Regions from separate parts of the Homo sapiens genome. Here regions 1, 3, 4 and 5 are each reported to be linked to region 2. The links are microRNA targets in miRTarBase. Many come from high-throughput screens and were not tested one by one. Region 2 holds a microRNA gene; each other region holds the end of a gene's coding sequence.

Region 1 (4,118 bases), not on the chromosome of region 2:
CATTTAGTTCTTATAGAAATTGTATCTACCTTTTCATTACATTTCTGTTGGCCTATTCCTTCCCAAGTAGCAACATTCAAAAGAAATCTAATAATTTTTTCTTCTTTAATGTTACTACTTTTTCACTTAAAAACATATCTCATATAAATCTCAAGGCCTAAAAGCCCAGAGTCTATGTGACACCATGACATTCATTTCAGCTAAGGAAACTAAGCACCCACAATAATTTCATACTTTCAGAGACTACACTGGGAGCTCTGGATCTATTCCTTCCTAGTTCTGCTATTATGAACCATTCATATGGCTTATTTGGGCCTTAATTTTCTCAACTATATAATGGAGACAATAATAGCTATCTTACCAAAGAGGTTATGACCAACTAAAATAATAACGTGGAAATGTAGCTCATACAGTATTGGGCATGTAGCAGTTAAAAGTTAAATGGCAATGACCCTGAGTTCTGGTTACCACGATGGGTGTTTCATGAGGTTGTACACTGTCCTGACACCTGCCCTCCACTTCAGAAAGTGACTTCTTAACAAAGAGTTTTTAACCTCCCTCTATGCTCTGCCTACTGCAGGAAAGGGAGGGGTATGCGGGATATTATTTTTATTAGAGAGCCTCTAAGTTATGTGTCTTGAAAAAATCAAACCAAAATCCAAATTGTTTTAAATCCTTGGTTAATAAGTACTTAGTGGTGGGTATTTAGCAGAGCATATCAGAACCAGCAAAACTCTAAACATACAGCATTCTTAAAAACTGTACCCAAGGGAGACTTTGGGCAAGTGCCTAAGCAAAGACTGAAGACTTTCTTCAAACAGCAAAAACAGTCCTAACACAAAGACAACACATCCAACCCAGAGAGGGGAAAATTGAAGACAGTGTAGGACAAACAGGAAACAAATTGGCAGAACTTTGCCAATACAATAAAAAGAATCCAGACAAAGCAAGACAATTCACTTACCTTTCTTAGCGAGGACAAACTCGATGTTGACCTCAGAACTCCCTCTCTGTCTTTTAGGTAAGTAGGGAGGGAGGGAGGGAGGGAGGGAGGTGAGTGGGTTGGTGGATGGATAGATAGATAGATAGATAGATAGATAGATAGATAGATAGATAGACCATATATACATTATATATTTAAAAATATTTTTTGATTATATAAAAATGTTCATTATAGAAAACTTGAAATACACAAAAAAATTTATTGATTCCTCCCACCTAAAATAATTACTGTTTACATTTTTATATATTTCCTTTTAGACTTTTCTTCATATGTACACATTTTTACCAAAAAAAATGGTATTATACCACATGTACAGGTTTTATTTCAATTTCACTTAGTAGGTCATATAAAAAGGTTCTTTGACTAATAAGATGGTAAATACATACTATTTCATCATAAAGATATATATTATTGTGTATATTTAAGGTATAGCATAGGTTATTTGACTAAGGTAACAGAGACCAAAACTCCAGCACCTGAAAGAATGGAGACACTGATTTCTCATCAACAGTCCTGGAGTTCAGGCTTGAGCAGTCCAGAGCTGGTGTTACAAGTCCACAGTGTGAAGAACCATGGAGCCAGCTCTAGGATGGAGAATTACTTCACTATCCCAAGCATTCACCTCATCTGCATTGTCCAAGATAGACAATCATGATGTCAGCATTCCAGCTCATGGAGGGAGTAACAAAGAAAAGATTAAAGAAGGGAAGGTAGGACTGCTCCGAAGTACCACCCAGAAATTATATACATCTTTTCTGCTCACATACATGGCAATAATGGAATTTGCTGCCAAAATTCTGAACAGCTAATGATTTGATTACTATGGAAGAGAGGAGAAAGAACAGATACTGAGGGACCAATGAGGGTTTCTGCCACTCATTTAGAGTTCTTAAGACATAGTATGCATTTAATCACTCTCAGTAATCCTTTTATCTCTCTTAGGATTTAACATGATGAATACCTCCAGGTTTCATAGCACAAAATATTGGCTTGGGTAATTTTTACTGAATATTGCAGTCAAGATTCTGGTGGCCAGAATGAGAAAAGTCATGTAATTTATAAAATTTTAAGATTTATTTGACATATGTAAATATTACATAAGCATTTTATGAACACCAAAAAAAACCTAAATAAATACAAATTATGATTCCCCAATTGACATTCCAAAACTTGTCAACATCCCATCTTCAGACTGTTGTTCTTTTGGAGCCACAGTCCAATGGTCCCAGCCACAGAAACAACATTCTGGAGAAGAACTGTGCTGTGTACAAATGTATAAGCAGATGAAATAAATTCACCACAAGTCAAGCACTCCCACCACCTGTCCAGTGCTTTTTTGGCTTTCCACTGAGTTCCATAGCCTATGGTGAAGTACAGTATTTTGTAAATTTGTACTCATATGGTGTTAATTTCATTATCTAGCACTTGCCTTTGACCTTAAGCTGGTTTCCCTGGATTTTAAGATTTTTGGAACCATTCTTGATTCAGTTTCTTAAATACTAATCACTTTCCTCTACTTACCAACTCTGGCAATATCCTCTTTTCCAGAACAAGCCTAGAAACCTTAGGGTTTCTTGCTAGGAATAGCACAGTTACTATTACCCAGCAAGTGTGAGGATACTTTTTCTGTCTTGTCCCAGAGTGTACGTCTATTTCTTTTTTTGAGACAGAGTCTTGCTCTGTCGCCCAGACTGGAGTGCAGTGGCGCGATCTCATCTCACTGCAAGCTCCGCCTCCTGGGTTGAAGCCATTCTCCTGCCTCAGCCTCCCGAGTAGCTGGGACTACAGGTGCCCGCCACCACGCCCAGCTAATTTTTTTGTATTTTTAGTAGAGACAGGGTTTCACCGTGTTAGCCAGGATGGTCTCGATCTCCTGACCTCACGATTCACCTGCCTCGGCCTCCCAAAGAGCTGGGATTACAAGCATGAGCCACCGCGCCTGGCCCAGTGTACGCCTATTTCTCTTCACCTTTCTCTTTCCTTCTTTTCTCTCTGAAACCTTCCTTTTTTCCTTTTCTCTTTGCACTGAACCCCCTTCCTCTGCTTTCGGTCAGTCCAGTGGCTCCCAGTGACCACCTATCCACTGCTGAGCCCTTACTCAGGGCTCCTCAGCTAAACCACAAATATCTAACTCATCACGTGCACCCCAATGTGTTCTCTAATTTGGAAGAATTTCCCATTATACTTCAATAGACAATGAAACAATGTGATGATTTCCATTATACATGGATTCAATGGCCATGCAAAATACATGACAAATAATGCCTCAAAAAAGTTTCTTACAGAATGTGCCTTATTTTAAAATACTTACATACCAAAAAAAAAAAATTACAGAATGAACTGAAATTCAGGCACTCAAAAGCCTATGATGTCAGATCAGCAATCACAAAACTGAATTCCCCAGATCACTGGGAAAACTGCAAACAGAAAATCTTGCCCCCAAACCATCAGGTAAATCTAGGTATTGTTTACTGAAATTCCACTATTTTTTGAAACAAAGAATCTTCTTTGCTGTTGTTTTCAGTTTAGGATGTGTGATAATAATGAGAACAGAATGTCCTGGAGAGTAAAGGGTGGCAAAAATCAGACAAATGGATTTGGTCCCCATATCCATCCCTGCATAAAAGGGGAGATACTGGACCAGGGTAGCAACTGAATATGGAATGTAGAGGATGAGGAAATAGACCATCAGCTTCATAGCACCTACATGAGCTTCCGTCTGGGGATTCCAGAAACCAGTGGCATTTTTCTGCATCTTCTGTATATGTCTCCTCAAGGAGTGTATTAGCAAGGAAGCAGAAGTCACATTAATGATGAACTGGAGAGATGAGCTCAAGACCAAAGAAACCACTAAAGACAAGATGCCCTCACTGATATTAAATGATGTGTTATTTCTCGTAGTCACAAGTTCAGGAAAAGGTGATGCCTGGCTAAGCGTGATGTACAGGCAAGTGGTGAAAGCAGAAATCAGCACACAGGCCAGCAGCAGCCTGGGGATCTTTGGGGAGATATTCCGCTTCAGCAGGAGAAACACTGAGTGTTGGAAGTTAGTAATCTTCACACAGTACAAGATATTGAGCAAGGTCACAAACCAGACACTGCTCGAGTCCAAAAA
Region 2 (4,118 bases):
TGATTGGCCCAGGAAAAGACAGGAAAAGACCACAGTGAGAAGACAGACTGAAGAACAGGGACAAGGAGGCAGCTGTCAGGGCCAGCATGTCCAACAGGAAAGGAACCCCAATGCTTTGGCTTCCTACCTTCTGGAGGAGACTCTGTGGCCTCTTCTTCATGCTTCCTGTACTGAGAACAATTAATAGAACCATGGACTGGGCAAGGTGGCTCACACCTAGAATTCCAGTGCTTTGGGAAGCCATGGTGGGAGGATCGCTTGAAGCCAGGATTTCAGGACCAGTGTGGGCAACAAAGTGAGACCCCATTTCTACAAAAAAAAAAAAAAAAAAAAAGCCACGTACCTGTAGTCCTAGTACTCAGGAGGCTGAGGTGGGAAGATGGCTTGAGCCCAGGAGTTCTATACTACATTGAGCTATGATGGCACCACTGCACTCCAGCCTGGCCAAGAGTATGAGACCCTCTCTCTTAAAAAAAAAAAAAAAAAACAAACAAAAACAGAACCATGAGCTGAAGTGCCCTTTGCTTTCATTTTGGAGCTCATACCTATTTCCCTGATCACAGGTTCTCAACGTAACCATCTATGGATTTGTATGCAAGAATGTTCTTGTCTGTATTTTCCTGAGAATAGTTACAGTTTTCAAAGATCCCCCACAAAGGGCCAATAGCCCCAACAAAGAAAAGGAAAAACTAAAAACCAGTGCTTTAAGAGAAAAAACACATCCTATTGAAATGGCTGAGGCTCCGGTATCTTTATACTGACAGAGGGAGCTAATATTTAGCCCACTGAAACCATTCCTGTCCTGTCCTGTCCTGCCTTACACTCAGTTACACAAGGCACAGCGTTGCCCTTCCTAAAAAGAAGAAGATACTGTTGGTCACAGTCAGCCCACTCTTCTACCCGTGGCTTGGTAGAAAGAGTAGTAGGTGACAGCTTCTGACCAGGGGCGGTATTACTGTGCTCAGTATTTCTCCTTTCCTGAGTCAGGATAAATAATTAGGAATGAACTTCAGAGCCAGTAACCCAATGTTCCAGTGGCACTCTGTCTCTCCCTGACTGATGAGAGGCTTGGTCAGCTGCCTGAGTTTCTCAGAACCCTCCCAAGGCCAGCACCCAGCTGGGCCACTTACCTGACCCCCTTGCTCGAGGAGTGACAGGCCCGTTGGATTTCTCTTCCAGGTCTTTCAGTTTGCAGTCAAAGAATCACTTATCCTGAAGCTGCCAACAGATGAGCTCATGAACCCCTCACAGAAGAAGAAAAGAAAGCACAGGCAAGAAGGGTTGGACAAAGTGTTTTGTTTTACAGCCAGGCTGTTCCCTGTGCTCTGACCTCCCCTTGGAGTTCCCATCTGCCTCCCTCTTTAGCAACCGCACAGGCTGTGTGAGCCCATCAGCTTGGCATCACATGACTGAGAGCCAGCCTCCTGAGTGCTCCCTGAGGGTCTGTGCCTTAGATCAGCCCTCTTCTTGTCCCCCAGTGCTGTGGACCATAACTGTCTGTTTTTCTATTTAAGCTTCTGGCCAATAGGACATGAGCTGGCCTCATGGCTCCACCCTGAAGCCATTTCTCCTTGTTGGTTTTGTTACCACCTTACCCATTTCTCAACTCTGATCAGAGTTTATTTATTTGTTTGGTTTGTGTTGTTTTTCTGAGTTACATGATAGCCTTTACTTAGGTTGGAAGTTTTTAAAAAAATTCTGCACCCTGGCCCTGTTCCCTAGTGACTATCACCTATCAGAGGAAGGAGCTGACACCACTTCTAGATACAGAAGGAAATCCCTGTGGCTCCTCCCTTTCAGTTCTTTCAGAGAAGATTCCTGAAAGGCCTTCCCACCTCCCCATCTTGAAACTCCCCCATATCTCCACCTCCACAAAGACAAAGGGAGAGATTTGGAGAGAAACAATAGCTTTATAATAGACCAATAGGCTTGGGCTTTCTTTTATTTCTGTGTTGTGTTCTTTTATGTTATTTGCTTGTTTGGGAGGGGTTGTGTTTAAGTTTAACTCTTGTAGCACAGGCCAGCTGGATTTAGGATGGACTCTAGCTTCTGTGTACCAAAGTCGTCCTGTTGAGGGGTTTGGGAAGATACTCCCCAGTCATCAAACACAGTCCCTCAGAGCAAGTCACGTTGTCATTTACCTGCATTTGCAGAGCTCCCTAGGGCCGTGACTGAGACCTGTCCTTCCTGTCTTTTTCAGATTGTGGGCTGCACACTGCAGGAAGATTCAGCTGAAGAAAGGTAAGTTCTACCAGGGCATTCTTCAGCAGTTCAGCTGGAGGCCTCACTCTGTGGTCATCACCCTACCCCACCTCCAGCTGCACTTGTTGACCCTGTGCCACTTCCGCAGATTGCAGAATTCTCTGCAGCAACTGAGAACAGCTGAGCCTCTCACTGCAACTGAGAAGACCTCTTAGGAGGTAACATTAAGGGCCTTGTGGTCTGTGATTTTTCTTTTTTTTGAGATGGAGCCTCGCTCTGTCACCCAGGCTGGAGTGCAGTGGCACAATCTTGGCTCACTGCAACCTCCGCCTCCCGGGTTCAAGCAATTCTCCTGCCTCAGCTTCCCAAGTAGCTGGGATTACAGGCATGTACCACCATGCCTGGCTAATTTTTGTATTTTTAGTAGAGACGGGGTTTCACCATGTTGGCCAGGCTGGTCTCGAACTCCTGACCTCAAATGATCCACCTGCCTCGGCCTCGCAAAGTGCTGGGATTACAGGCGTGAGCCACTGTGCCTGGCCAGTATGTGACTTTTCTAGTGTGCCATTTGCTAGGTTCCAGACCTCATTTAATGTTTAGAATAGCTTCCCTGTTGTCCCAGACCATCTCCACACCCTCCCCACAAAGCAGATCACCCCACTGCAGCTTATGAACAACGGTCATCCCTGTCTTCTCACTTCAGGTGCTAAATGTGTGTCCAAGGAGATTGTTAGGACCAGCCTCCTCTGAATCAGGGCAGCTGGACACTTGGGAGGGAAGACAGCTGGAGAGTATGGTCACAGCAGCATCCTCCTCTGTTTTCTTTCCTAGATAACTCTTCCACACAAGTGTACAACTACCAACCCTGCGACCACCCAGACCGCCCCTGTGACAGCACCTGCCCCTGCATCATGACTCAGAATTTCTGTGAGAAGTTCTGCCAGTGCAACCCAGACTGTAAGTGTGCTACGTTTTCTGTATAGTCTACCAAAACAGTTGGCTCCAGTGTGCCCTAGGCTTGCCCCATTCCTGTGCCCTTTACTGCTTATGGCCTTCTGATATCCCCTTTGCTGTGTTTTAGGGATTCTACAAATGAAATAAGTGCATGAGATCTGGGAGAGTCGTTTCTGGAAAACGTTTAGGTTCATGATTCTAAAAGCAGCAATTACACAGAAATCAGATACTTTCCCAACTTTGTCTTCTAGGGGAGAATTAAGAAATGTGGGGGGCAGCAGGCGCAGTCACTCACGCCTGTAATCCCAGCACTTTGGGTAGGCGGATCACTTGAGGTCAGGAGTTCAAGACCAGCGTGGCCAACTTGGCGAAACCTCATCTCTACTAAAAATAAAAAAATTAGGCCAGGTGTGGTGGCTCACGCCTATAATCCCAGCACTTGGAAGGCCAAGTCGGGCAGATCACTTAAGGTCAGGACTCAAGACCAGCCTGGCCAACATGGTGAACCCCGTCTCTACTAAGAATACAAAAATTAGCCAGACATGGTGGTACATGCTTGTAGTCCCAGCTACTTGGGAGGCTGAGGCACAAGAACTGCTTGAACCCAGAGGGCAGAGGCTGCCAGTGAGCCAAGATTGTGCCACTGCACTCCAGCCTGGGCAACAGAGCAAGACTCTGTCTCAAAAAGAAAAGAAATGTGGGACTCTTTTTTTTTTTTTTAAGTTACAGCCCCAGTTTCCCTTTTCTGAATACTGTTTTAAAAAATTTTTTATTCAGATATTTTTTGTTTGTGATTCTGTGTATGTCTATTTTCATTTCATAGCTGGAGTTTTAATATCAGGTAGAAGACAGGGGCCTGGATGTCAGCAGAGACATCCGGGTACTTATCTTTTACTTCTTATCCCACCATGCCCTTCCCAACTCAAAGCTGAGCAGTTTGATGGCAGTCCCCACAGCTTGCA
Region 3 (4,097 bases), not on the chromosome of region 2:
CTTCATGTTTCTGGCCAAAGTGCTGACGGGCAGATACACAATGGGCAGTCATGGCATGAGAAGGCCCCCGCCAGTCAATCCTGGCAGTGTCACCAGTGACCTTTATGACTCTTGTGTGGATAATTTCTTTGAGCCTCAGATTTTTGTCATTTTTAATGATGACCAGAGTTACCCTTATTTTGTTATCCAATATGAAGAAGTCAGTAACACTGTTTCCATTTGAAAAATCTTGGTACTGCTAAATTATTTGATATGAACTCAATCCAGCATTTGTAGCAGGTTTTGAATGGGTGGGACTGGGTGGGGAACAGCATTGGACATTAATAGGGCACTTTTCAGACCCATTTTTTAAAGTGCTAGAAAATGCTTTTTTTAAAAAAAAAATACAAGTTTTAAAATGACCACTTACTCTTTAATTATTTACTAATTGCTAGTGTACTCAGTGTGGAAAAGACTACAGATTACACACTCTTTTCATTCACACTTGTACATATAGACAGCAATGTTATTAGGAGCATTAAATTAAAAAACTGAACAGCCTAATTTAAATGTGGCTTGGGCCTGGTAGAAGTTTGACCAAATGGAATGGAGGCTGTGAGCAATGTGAGGATTCTATTTATTTATTTACGTTTGATAAAACTTACTGGAACTAGTACTACCATGCGTATTCCCTGTCCAAAGCATCACTGCTTTGGTATAGTATAAGTTCATGAAATTCTGGTGGGTAGAAAGAAATTTTTATTTCTATCAGCAGTACTAAAATGTATCAGCCAACCAGAGAACATCAGTGACTTTAACTTCTGCAGAGTTTGCCCCAGAATTCAGAGTTCTATTTAGAGGAAGTTAAAACAACAACAAAAAACAACCATTTGAAAAATTTTTGTCACCAGCAAAACTTTTCACTAATTAGTGATATGAAATGTGATTTTTGTGTTGTTAAACTTCAGCTTTGGAAAACTCAGTCTCTTTCATTATCATCCATTCCAATTTGAAGGAGTTGGGCAGCTAATTTGGTTAAAGGCAGTCTTGAGGGTTAGAAGTATTACTTCCTTTTCGGGTTCCAGACCTAGCTTGTGACTGAAAGTTTTAGAAAAAGGAAGTACATCTATAGCCAAATTGATAAGGTTATTACTGTGTTTTGCACAAAGTATATTAGCAAAAGTATTTGCTGGAATTATTGGTAGATGGCAGTCCCACTCCTACACCTGCTTTGTCAGATACAGCTGGGTTCCCTGGCTGACTCTGTACCTTACTTACACTACTTACTTAATAGAAACACAAACTTGGAAATTGTGCCAGTGGTCCAGCTGGAGCACAACGTTTGGTGAATATGCTGTTTCCTCAGTTCAGAGAGGTAGCAACTAGGTAAACTCCTTATAAAAAGCAAATACCTGGATTTACAAAAGTGAAAGTAGTTGTTCACAAAAGAATTCGCCATGGAATTCTTTCAGTTACCAAGCTCTCCTGGTAATGTTTGTGGTTATATCATTTACACAAAACTTTTCAGGAACTTCTGTGTTGTTTAAGCAAGATGTATCTGTACTGATGTCTCAGTGAATCAGTCTGTTTATTAAGCACTTATCAGGGCTTCCACACACTTATTTATTTTGCCCTAGTTAATCCTGTTGTTTGCTGCCATTGGCATGAAATGGCCAACTGTGGCTGTTACAGTTCTTTCATTCAATTATAACTTGTAAACCAGTGACTCCTAATCTTTTTCAAGTTAAGACACCTTACCATTGCTTATTTGGTTTTATGAGACTTGTTCCTTTTTTTCTCCCTAAGGAAAAAGAAAGCTTTATGACATATTTATTTTTTTAATAAAACTAAGCAAAAATAAAACTTATGGTAATTCTTTAAAATTTGTTGTTGTTTTGGTTCCATTTAAGATCACTGGATTAATACATAGTTGGTGATCTGTAAATGTTGATTGGTTGGTTAAATGTATGATTGAGTGACTGAATGAACAGACCTAACCAGAACTTGCTGCTTAAACTTTTCTGCAGTGTGAATCTACAGAAAGTACATTATCTAGCAGCCCATTATCATTTACAAGAGAAGAATCAATATTTTATTTTGCAGGTAATACTTGGAGGAAATGGAAAAGTTTTTTTTTTTTTTTTTTTTGAGGCGGAGTCTTGCTTTGTCGCCAGGCTGGAGTGCAGTGGTGCGATCTTGGCTCACTGCAACCTCCACCTCCCAGGTTCAGGCGATTCTCCTGCCTCAGCCTCCTGAGTAGCTGGGATTAAGGCAACCGCCTCTATGCCCGGCTGATTTTTTTTTAATTATTACTTTTAATACAGACAGGGTTTCATCGTGTTGGCCAGGCTGGTCTCAAACTCCTGACCTCAGGTGATCTTCCCACCTTGGCCTCCCAGAGTGCTGGGATTACAGGTGTGAGCCACTGCACCTGGCCTCCAAAACTTTTTGAGCATCAACATGATACTGAAAGAAAATGCTCATTGGAACATACCAGATTCTGGATTTTCAGATTAGGAATGTTCAACTGGGAAATACACAAATACTTAAAAACCTGAAATCCGAAACACTTCTAGTCCCAGGTGTTTCCCATAAGGGAAACTCAATCTGTATCAGCAGACAGCTGCAGAGAAAAACATAAGCAGGTTGTCCCTTTCACTGGGTGTGAAGGAAATATAAAAAGGATTTGTATGGCCAGGCATGGTGGTTCATGCCTATAATCCCATCACTTTCGGAGGCTAAGGCAGGCGGATTGCTTGAGCTCAGGAGTTTGAGACCAGCCTAGGCAGCATGGCGAAACCCCGTCTCTACAAAAATAGAGAAATTAGCCGGGTGCGGTTATGTGTGCCTGTGGTCCCAGCTACTCAGGGGGCTGAGGCTTAAGCCCAGGATGCAGAGGTACAGTGAGCCGAGATTGTGCCACTGACTTCCAGCCTGGGCAACAGAGTGAAACTGTCTCAAGAAAAAAAAAGTGGGGGAATGGAATTGTAGAAGTCTCATCAGCTCTCAAAGCCCCTTAGATTTCAGCCAGCTAGCAAAGTCATCTGATTAGTATACATAAGCATTTCTAACAGTGCTTTTAGCCCCAGTGTAATGATTTTTATATCCCTGTAATAGCATCGTATGTTGTTTTAACTAAGTAATAACTACCAAGTCAGTCTAAATTTTGTAATGGTTCTATGGATTTAAAACATACTAAAAGGCATTCAGTAACTTCTACCAGCACAGCTGTAATTTACACCATTTCAAGAAGCTGGAACTTGCTCTTAAACTATGGTTAAGATTTCCAGGAAAAGAGAGTCTACAAACTCCCTGAGATTCCAGTCATACAATCCTATAGACAGGAAGATTTTGTATGTGTCCAAAGTTTATAAATATTGGATCCTTGGTATTATGAATCTAATACCCATCTCTGCACCTTGTTACAAACCTGTTTGTTTTAGTAAACAATTAGTTGGTTATAAAAAGTCACTAGGGCCTGATATACTTGTAAAGAAATTTTATTATATAAGGTCTGAAAATGACTAAATAGGAATCCAATACCATACTGTCAGTTTAAAGAGAGGTTTTTTCCTCCTTCATTTAAGGAAAGTAAGATTACTGCAAGATGTTTCTAGATTTCCTTAGTTTGAATCTAACAGTCAAAACACATTTTAGAAAATCCTACATAGTACTTTTCTGGAATCTAATCCATACCACGTATGTTGTTGCTATTACCATGCGGTTTTAAAAAAATAACTTAAGCTCTTCTATTGTAACTAAACTATACAGCCTTGAACAAATCACTTAACCTTACCACATGGTTAGTTTTCTCATCTTTCTCATCTTTGACTTTTTTAAATGACTATAAATGATGAGACTATCTAACTTTAAAACACTACAATGCAAAAATTTTTTGTAAAGTGCTATACAAACAACTTATAGCATGTACTTACAAATTAAAAGCCAGATACATTTTCCATTAAAAGATAGTTTTAAAAACAGTCCCATCTAGTTTGTTGATTTAAGTACTCTTATTATGGCCAAGTTAAAGAAATTAAACAGTGCTTTTTACCTTCTTTAACTTTCTAATCTTACTTGTAAGCCATCATTATAGAAAGAAAAAGATGCTATTGAAA
Region 4 (4,118 bases), not on the chromosome of region 2:
GCGGAGGCCATCAAGGAGCATGAACGGTGGCTGGCCATGTGCATCCAGGCCCTGCAGCGGGAAGTGGCAGAGGAGGACCTGGTGCAGGTGGACAGAGCCGTGGACGCCCTCGACCGCTGGGAGATGTTCACGGGCCAGCTCCCGGCCACCAGGCAGGACCCACCCAGCAGCAGGGACAGCGTGGGGCTGCGCAAGGTGCTGGGGGACAAGTTCTCCTCCCTGAGGAGGAAGCTGAGTGCCCGAAAACTCGCCAGAGCAGAGTCGGCCCCCCGTCCCTGGGATGGGGAAGAGAGTTAGTACAGCAGGGGCTGCCCTACGTCTCCTTCCCTAAGGATGCTGGCCAGCACTGTCCAGTAGCTGAGGCCACTACTGACCTGCCAGGGATAAAGAGGAAGGGTCTGCCTGGGTGGTGGCTCAGGCCTGTCATCCCATCACTTTGAGAGGCCAGGAGTTTGAGACCAGACTGGGCAACATGGTGAGACTCTGCCTCTACAAAAGAAAAATTAAAAAATTAGCTGGATGAAGTGGTTCATGCCTGTGTTCCCAGCTATTCAGGAGGCTGAGGTGGGAGGATTGCTTGAGCCTAGGAGGTCGAGGCTGCAGTGGGATGTGATCATACCACTGTACTGCAGTCTGGGCCACACAGAAAGACTGTCTCCAGAAAAAAAAAAGTTCTTTGGAGAAGCCACAGACCACCTGTCTTCAGGCGCCTCCTTCAACTCCTGAGTCCCAGCCAGCCGCTCCCAGGGGCCTGCACACATGGAGAGGCCTCCCTGATCCTGGGTGCTTCTCGTGGAGTACAAGCCGGACTGTGCTGAGGTTGGGACAGAGCCCCCTCCCCTGCAGAGGCAGAAGGAAGCAGCGTGCGTCCTGTCTCCTTCCAGGCTGTGGGCCTGCCCTTCAGTTATTTATAGCTGGAGCTGGAGAGGCTGGCTCAGATGAGGAGTGACCCCGGGGGCACACAGGCTCCACACTGCCACCCAGCTTCCAAGGCTGAGTCTCCTCCCTAACGGGGAAGTGACGGGGTTTTGTCTCTATCATCTCAGGCGTCAACCACATGCACACACACACTGTCACGTTCTGTGGCGCTAACAGCATCCTGATCCTGACGGACTTCACCGGGGCTCTCCAGGCATCTCTTCTGACAAACACTGCAGGAGGTGAGGGTGTCTGACGTGCACTGAGGGCAGAGGCCCCCTTATTCCTGAGGCGGCTACAGCTCACCGTGGGGAAGATCAACTGTGGTGATGTTTTTGGGACAGTTTCTTGGCAAAGGTGGCCGCGCTGTCAGTACCAAGTAGCTGGAGGTGGTGATCAGATGATCTGTCTTTCCTTTTTTTTTCGGTCTAGTTCTGTCAGTTGCTGAGAGAGGGGTATTATTGCCATGGCTGGGCGTTTGATCTGTCTCCCTTTAGTTTTGCCGGATTTTGCTTCCTGCACTTTGAAGCTCCTTTACGTCCCTGCACATTTGATTGTTGTGTCTTCCTGAGGAATTGACCCTTTTATTGTCACACGTACCCCCTCAGCCTGTGGTGGAGGGTCTCTGGGAGAGAGACTTCCGGTTCTGACAGCGGAATCCCTTCGGAGTGACGAGGGCGGGGTCACAGCTCGCGCACCCTCATCTGGAGAGAGGCAAGAACAGGGCAGCTTGGACCTTTTGTGGGTGGGTGGCTCACACGGTTATGGAGGGCTTCTAAGAAAAACAAAATACAAAACTAAAACTAGAAGGGCTATGCAGGTGAGGTGGGCTGAGGCTTCCTTGTGAATCTGACATTGGTGGAGGCCGACTGAAGGCTCCCGGTCCTGGTCCCACTCCGTGTTGACTTCAGAGAAGCAAAGATGCAGCTCAGAAGTAGCATTAGGATCTTCGTCCCGTTCTCTTTTGCGTAGCTTCAAAAAGGCGTAACAGTGACCTGGGAGGGGAGATGAAGAGCTAGGCCTTTCAGAAAGTGACCAATGGAAGGTGCCGGCAGAGCACCCTGCAGTAACAGAAGGTGAAAGCCGGAGCCTGGTGGCTGTTGCTGCAAACAACCACCCAAAACTTAGTGGCTTAAAATCACCACAGTCTAGCTCATGAATCTGTAACTTGGGCAGAGCTCGGTGGAGACGGTTTGCCCCTGTGGCTCGACTGGAGTGTTCGTTCACACGGCTGCCAAGTGGAATTTGGCTGGGAATCTCAGGCCTTGGTTCCTGCCCACGTGAGACTCTCCATGGAGGAGGGGCATCTTCTTAGGAAGGCAGCTGCCATACCGTGAGGAAACCCGACAAACAGGGCAGCCAGAGCCAGACAGCAGGCTCCTGGTCCCAGTCCCGGAAAATGCAAAGGGACAAGTATGTGTTGATTTCAGAGAAGCTCAGATGTAGCATTAGGACCTTCATCCATACCCTTCTCTTTTGCATGGCTTCTAAAGGGCATGACAGTGACCTGGGAGGTAACTGTGCCAGAATAAAGAGGGGAGACGAAAAAAAGAGGGTCACTTTCAGAAAGGGACCTGGGCTTCCTCACAATATGGCGGTTGCCCTCCTAAGGTGGACATCGGGAGGGTCAGATGGAAGCTCTGTGGCCTTTCCTAACTCGGCCTCACGTCACAGAGCGTCACCTTTCCTGCACTCCACGGCGGCAGTGACAAGGACCCCACCCCAGGTTCACGGGGAGGGGACGTGGCAGGGAATGTGAGACAACACAATATTGCTGTGGCCATTCATGAACAGTCAGTCAGCCCCACTCGGCGTTCACTGTGGGGATTTGGCTGGTGCACCTGCGAGGTGGCCTGACCTGTTTTCCGATTTCCTTCATCTTCTGCAAAAGGTTAACCGCTGGAGTGATGCGAGATTAAACAGAGGTGATAAAAATAGAATGCCTGGCTCATGCTGAGGGTGGGAGCCCACTGGGGTTATGACCAAAGCCTCGGCGCTCTCTGTACCCGTGTCCTTTGACCCTCAGCTGTGATGTGTGTCCCAAAAAAGCGTTTTGAAGTGGGAAGGAGCAAACCACTAAAAAAAACTCCTTTTATCCGCAGCGTTTACCAACTTGCAGATGTCAGTGAAATTTTTTAAGACAGCTGTTAGAAGGACTGTTTTGAAATGCAACTTTGAGGAAGAGAAATTGGTTTCCCTCCTCTCCCCCGTGTTAGCCCCAGGTTCTGTCTGTGCTGTGGTGAAGAGTGACTTGGGACAGTCACCAGGAAAGACGCAAGGCAGAGGAGAGAGAATGAGGGCTGCCTTCTCGAGGAAGGTCACAGCTCACGAATCTTTCTAAACTTAAGTGCTGCAGAAGTTGAACTGAGATTAAATTTAGAGATGATGGTTTCCAAGACACACAGGGCCACGGTTCTTTCAGTTTTTAAACACGTGCAAAGTCCACTGAATTGCTTTCTCGTCTCATCTGTCAGAAGCCCCTGCATTCACAAGGATGGGTCTTCCAGCTTGACGATGACCTCTCTTCGGAGAGCCTCACCCATCTTGGTAAGCCAAGTCAGCGGGGCCTCATGGAGCTAAAAATAGTTTCAGGTCATGACAGATGTTATCTGTATTGCTGTGTGTGCGATGAGTCTGGGGAAGCTAACACATGCCTTCTGAAGTGGCTAGAATACACACTCCCACGTCACAGCCATGCTATGATGAAGGGGTGAGAAGCAGTGTCCCCTCTGAGGCAAATCTCTCTTCAGGCAGCCCCGCAGTCCTCTTCCGAAATCTCATTCTTTTCCCTCTCTTCCTCCCCAAAAAGCCCAAACTCATTGTCAGAGTGGGGAGAGGGGAGAAGCAGCATCCTGACTCCTGTCCATGGTGTGAACCCTGAGGGCACGGGACAGTGAGTGGAGCTCTGCCACCACCCGTTTCCAGAGCATGGGTGAGGAGGGAGGGATGCCGACCTGTTAATATTTGCTTCAGACCTTTCCCCGATGAACGAAATCTCCAAAAGCCTTAAACATAAAATGGCTTAGTCAAGCACGAGTGATAAAGCTGGGAGTCCAAATTTAGATCCCACCAAGTTCAAAGGGGGAGGCTAGAACATTCCAGGGACACACCTACACGCAGAGGGTCTCCATACAGTGCCAAGGGAGCTGCTCTGCAGACCCACCAGGCAGGGACGGCCAGGCCTCGGAGAGAGGGACCGG
Region 5 (4,118 bases), not on the chromosome of region 2:
TGGGCAAGATGAGTTTGAAGGTCCCTTATGGTTTTCACGATTGGATTCTATCTTCTCCCACCCATCCAGGCTCCCAACCCCACCAGAGCTGACTCTGGGGTCGAATTTGAGCCAATCCCCTCCCTTTGTCAGTGCCCAGTTTCCTCACCCCTTCTGAACCTTGCTGCCAGAATCTCTGTGCCTCTTCTCTGGAGAAGGACCCAGGAACCTGCAGGGCTCTGTGCGCTCTGGGAATTATCTAAGGCTGGCAAAGGCATCCCGGTGCTTGAGGCCCTTCGTGTTCTTGCTCTTCCCTTCTCCCTGTCCTTGCTGGCTCAAGGGTCAGCTGGAGATGGTTCTGAAATCAAATTCCTCCCACTCTTTGGACTTCCATTCCTCTCCCCTTCTCTCTTCTTTCTTTCTTCCTTGTCTTTTCCTTCTTCTTCTCCCCACCCTCTCCTTCCAAGGGCTGAAGAAGTTGGGCATTCAGGCAGCTGACCTGATTCAAAGCCCAGCTCCATACCTCACTAGCTGTGCAACTCTGAACTAGTGAAGTCTGTTCTTGAAACAGAAACTCACTTTCTGCACCCCCCCCCCACCTTGCTATGATGGTCCCCTTCTGCCAGGGCCAATTTGAGGTTTCAGTGTTTGTGCCTGAACCATCGTAGGTGCTTCATGAATGCCAGATCCCTTTCCTTCATCATCATGCTCTGGGACCTTTCTGTCCCCTCTCCTGTCCCTCCCCTATCCTCAAACACCATCTTCTTTTCTTTTCCCTCTACCTCTTGTCCTCACGATCCCTCAGCTCCCCCACCCCACCCAGGAGGCAGGGCTAAGTAAGGCCCCATCACTGAGTCCTGGGCCCAGAGAGAAGGCTCTGGGCACTAAGTATGTTGGTTGCCTGTGCAGCAGTGCAGGTGAGCACACTTTGCACACTGCAGGGACGATATATGCATGACCCATGGAGATGTTCACATGAAGCTGTGGGGACAAGACTGTATGGGATGTTAAGGCTGCATTTAAGTACTTGACAGGAACCTAAGTCAGAACAGGAAGACCCACAGAGCAGCCAGAAAGAGGGAGGCCAGACTCTAAGGAGGAAAACAGCCGGTTTGAATTGTGCTCCTGTTTATCAGCTTTTCCAATGACAACATGAATTCCTGGCTCCCCCATCCTGGCCTGGACTGCCAGAAGCCCAGGAAAAGCAGCATCCTACAAGCCAGGAGGGCCAAGGCGCTGACGACTGCTGCTGTGACCCGGGACAGGTCCCATCCCATCTCGTGCCTCAGTAAATGTGGGAAGAGGGGAGATGGGGGCCACTGAGCAATATTTAAAGCTCCCTTTTTGCTCTCAAACCGTCTATATTCAAACTCTTTAAAGCATTCAGAGGCTCCAGCTTGGGATCAATTCAGAGCTGCCTTGTCATAAGCATTAAGGCACAATAAGGGAAGGAACAGTTTGTCTCTTAATGAAGTGTGATTCCAAACAGCCCATGGCCTCGGGAACTCGCCCAGCGCGGGGTAGACATTGCATCTGTTCATTGCATCTTGTTGGAGAATCAGCTTAACAATGAAGGGACTTGGAAGAGAACAGAATGTGGACACTTAGGAGCCAAAGGGCCTCAGGCCCACAAGGGACTGCCTCCTGCCAGCTTTCCCTCCCCATTGCCTTGATCTCTGGAGACATAGGAGGTGGGAGCCACGGTAGGAGGCTGTTAATGGCTGTTGAGGGAGCTGGAAGCCAAGTGCATTTTCTCTGCCATGTTGCATCATTTTTGAAAACTATTTGCAAAGTTTCTTAAAGGCCATTAAGATGTTCATCCTCATTTGCAGAAAAATCAATATTTATGGCAAAAATCTCCAAACTTTTTAAGTCCTTCCCAACTCTGCAGCCTCATTTGAGCCAGGCAAACTGAAGTTCAAATCCAAGCTCCGGCAGAGACTAGCTGGGTACCTTTGGGCAAGTTACTTAACCTCTCTAAGCCTCAGATTCCTCCTATGTAAAAGGGAAGTTATAACCATACCTAACTCAGGGTTGCTGTAATGATTAAATGAGAAAACATATGTAAAGTGCATAATATAAAAAGTGCTAAATAAATGTAGGCTATCAATATACTAGAATAATCTCCACAGATAAATTCCAAATAGAAGAACAGAGTTTCTGGAGCCAGACGGAGCCAGGTTCAGATCTTAACTCTGCCACTGATTAGCTGTGTGATGCTGGGCAAGTTACTTTCCCCATCTGGGCCTCAGCTATGTCATTTGTAAATGGGGCTATGACACTCTGTGGCCACAGGGACGTGTCAGTATTAGATGAGAAAAGCCATGCCAGGCACCTGTATCCAGGAGGTATTTGGTGTCTGCAGCTCAGAAACACAGTTCAAGGAGTCCAGCTCCAGACTCTGTCTCAAGTGACTGAGTCCTCGGACATACTCTTCTTCCCAGGGGACTCTCCGGAGTTGCTTCCCAAAGCTGCATTTTGGACCTGTCTCCAAAGGCGTTGAGGAAATTAACCAGAATGAGAAGCCCCACCACCAGTGTTTTATTCTAAGCACCTCCAGCCAGAGCTGAGTGGATTAGGAAAGGCAGAAAAAAATCCCTGTGATGGGGTGAGGGCTGCTGGTGAAGATGCCTGCCACAACCCCACCCCCAGGTAAGAGGGGCAAGGTGAGATCAGGGGCTGGCACCACCCTGACGCCCCAAATAGCTCCAGCCTAAAGCACCATCAGCCTGCGATGTTCTAGGGTGAGCTGCTCCATGCCTGCATCCTTTAAAGGTTCTTTTCTCCTTTCTCATTTCTTTGCCAAATCTCAAGTCCTCGTTGCATCCCTCACTTGTCTTGCCCTTGCAAAGAGCCCACAGGACCTCTCAGGACCAGTTCTCTGTCTTCCTAGCTGATCCGAAAGCCAAATTCATGGCCTATGGAGTTCATGGGCTGATATGTCACCTTCCTCTCCCAGATCACCTATGCATTTCCACATACTTTAACACAGAGCAGTGACTTGAAGGTAGGGTTTTCTGGCCAGCTACTGATAATATATATACAAGGGCCAAGTGTGATCTGCATCACACTGGGTTTGCTCTGACCCCCTCACTGCTCACACCAGGAATGGACCTTGGAGAGTGTCATTTCTGGGGCACACACAATAGGCAGCTTAATCCCACCGCCCTATGCCAATCCCAGTTCATGGCAATGCTTTTGAGAATTCTTCCTTTTTTGCTTTGAGTCAGTCAAGGCTGGCCTCCCAAGAAGCATAAATTGCTAGTCCAAGGCTGTATGGAACACAGCATGTTCTGTCCACTAGAAGAAAGGGGTTCCAGGCCCTAGATTCCCAGCATAAAACACTGTTCATCCCATGCAAAATGCAGTGAAAATTGGTGGATGCTAAAGAGGTTCTTGCCTTGATCTTCAGAAGACATATCCTTGGGTGTCCCTGGGTTGAGAGAGTCCATTGAGGGGTTCCACAGTGAGGATCAAAGCATGCCGGTCTCCCTCTCATTCATAGAAGTCCTCTCATTCATTGATGACATCTTGGTAAAGCTTCTATGGCTGGGGTAGGAAGAGTGGCCTGTATCTTCACTTAGAGCATTGACCAGGCGAGAGAAGAGGGCCACCTTGAACTTCTTGAAGTCCTGACCCATGAAAACATACAGAATGGGGTTCATGCAGCTGTTGGCAATGGCAAGGGCAGTGGCCAGGGGCAAACCCAGGCTGAAGACAGAGCCAGGCATGGCAGTGTGGTGGAGCTCTAGGAGGTTGAGTGTGTGGTAGGGGCACCAGCAGAGGAAGAAGGTAATGATGATGGTCACAATAATCTTGAAGGGCTTCTTGGTCTTGGCCAGGCGGTTGCGCTGCAGTTTGCACACGATGGTGAGGTAGCAAGCTGTGATGATGAGGACTGGGACCAGGAAGCCACAGAGGAAGCGGGTGACAGTCACCACCATGTGCCGGCTATACCCCACAGGGTCCATTTGGGAGTGAGTGGGCCACGAGGAAGACCCAGGTGTGGACAGGCTGAAGTTGTTGAAGCAGGATATTTTCCCATGCAGGTTGGCTGTGTCCCGGAAGACGAGAGATGGGGAACTCAAGAAGAAAGCCAGGACCCAGATGACCATGCAGGCCATGTAAGCCAGGCGAAC

What was found. The annotated mature microRNA hsa-miR-6780a-3p reads CUCCUCUGUUUUCUUUCCUAG and lies in region 2 at 3,013-3,033, shown strand. An mRNA with a match to its seed (bases 2 to 7 or 8) in the 3' UTR can be bound and repressed. Matches are read on the target gene's strand: a 7mer-m8 pairs with bases 2 to 8, a 7mer-A1 pairs with bases 2 to 7 and ends in A, and an 8mer does both.
Region 1: miRTarBase lists TAS2R4 as a target of hsa-miR-6780a-3p. Seed matches in the 3' UTR shown: 8mer at 3,039-3,046 and 7mer-A1 at 2,512-2,518.
Region 3: miRTarBase lists TIPARP as a target of hsa-miR-6780a-3p. Seed matches in the 3' UTR shown: 7mer-A1 at 836-842.
Region 4: the mRNA of AMZ1 is a reported target of hsa-miR-6780a-3p. Seed matches in the 3' UTR shown: 7mer-A1 at 388-394 and 7mer-m8 at 3,199-3,205.
Region 5: the mRNA of CMKLR1 is a reported target of hsa-miR-6780a-3p. Seed matches in the 3' UTR shown: 7mer-A1 at 2,927-2,933 and 7mer-A1 at 373-379.

Annotation. Positions count from the first base shown.
Region 1 is chr7:141,778,756-141,782,873 of GRCh38, reverse strand. TAS2R4 (taste 2 receptor member 4) reads right to left here. Exons shown (of 1, transcript NM_016944.2): 1 at 1,183-4,118. The coding sequence ends at 3,486. Among named protein-coding and RNA genes, the nearest start is that of TAS2R4, 4.1 kb to the right of the region's middle.
Region 2 is chr17:42,706,999-42,711,116 of GRCh38, reverse strand. MIR6780A (microRNA 6780a) reads left to right here and starts at 2,966; the gene lies at 2,966-3,033. It overlaps EZH1 (enhancer of zeste 1 polycomb repressive complex 2 subunit), which reads left to right. Exons shown (of 21, transcript NM_001991.5): 13 at 1,180-1,271; 14 at 2,201-2,241; 15 at 3,034-3,159.
Region 3 is chr3:156,704,909-156,709,005 of GRCh38, forward strand. It overlaps TIPARP (TCDD inducible poly(ADP-ribose) polymerase), which reads left to right. Exons shown (of 6, transcript NM_015508.5): 6 at 1-1,862. The coding sequence ends at 223. Among named protein-coding and RNA genes, the nearest start is that of TIPARP-AS1, 31 kb to the left of the region's middle.
Region 4 is chr7:2,712,582-2,716,699 of GRCh38, forward strand. It overlaps AMZ1 (archaelysin family metallopeptidase 1), which reads left to right. Exons shown (of 7, transcript NM_001384743.1): 7 at 1-4,118. The coding sequence ends at 297. Among named protein-coding and RNA genes, the nearest start is that of AMZ1, 26 kb to the left of the region's middle. RefSeq lists a silencer at 561-760 and an enhancer at 2,996-3,045.
Region 5 is chr12:108,288,389-108,292,506 of GRCh38, forward strand. CMKLR1 (chemerin chemokine-like receptor 1) reads right to left here. Exons shown (of 4, transcript NM_001142343.2): 4 at 1-4,118. The coding sequence ends at 3,453. Among named protein-coding and RNA genes, the nearest start is that of CMKLR1, 49 kb to the right of the region's middle.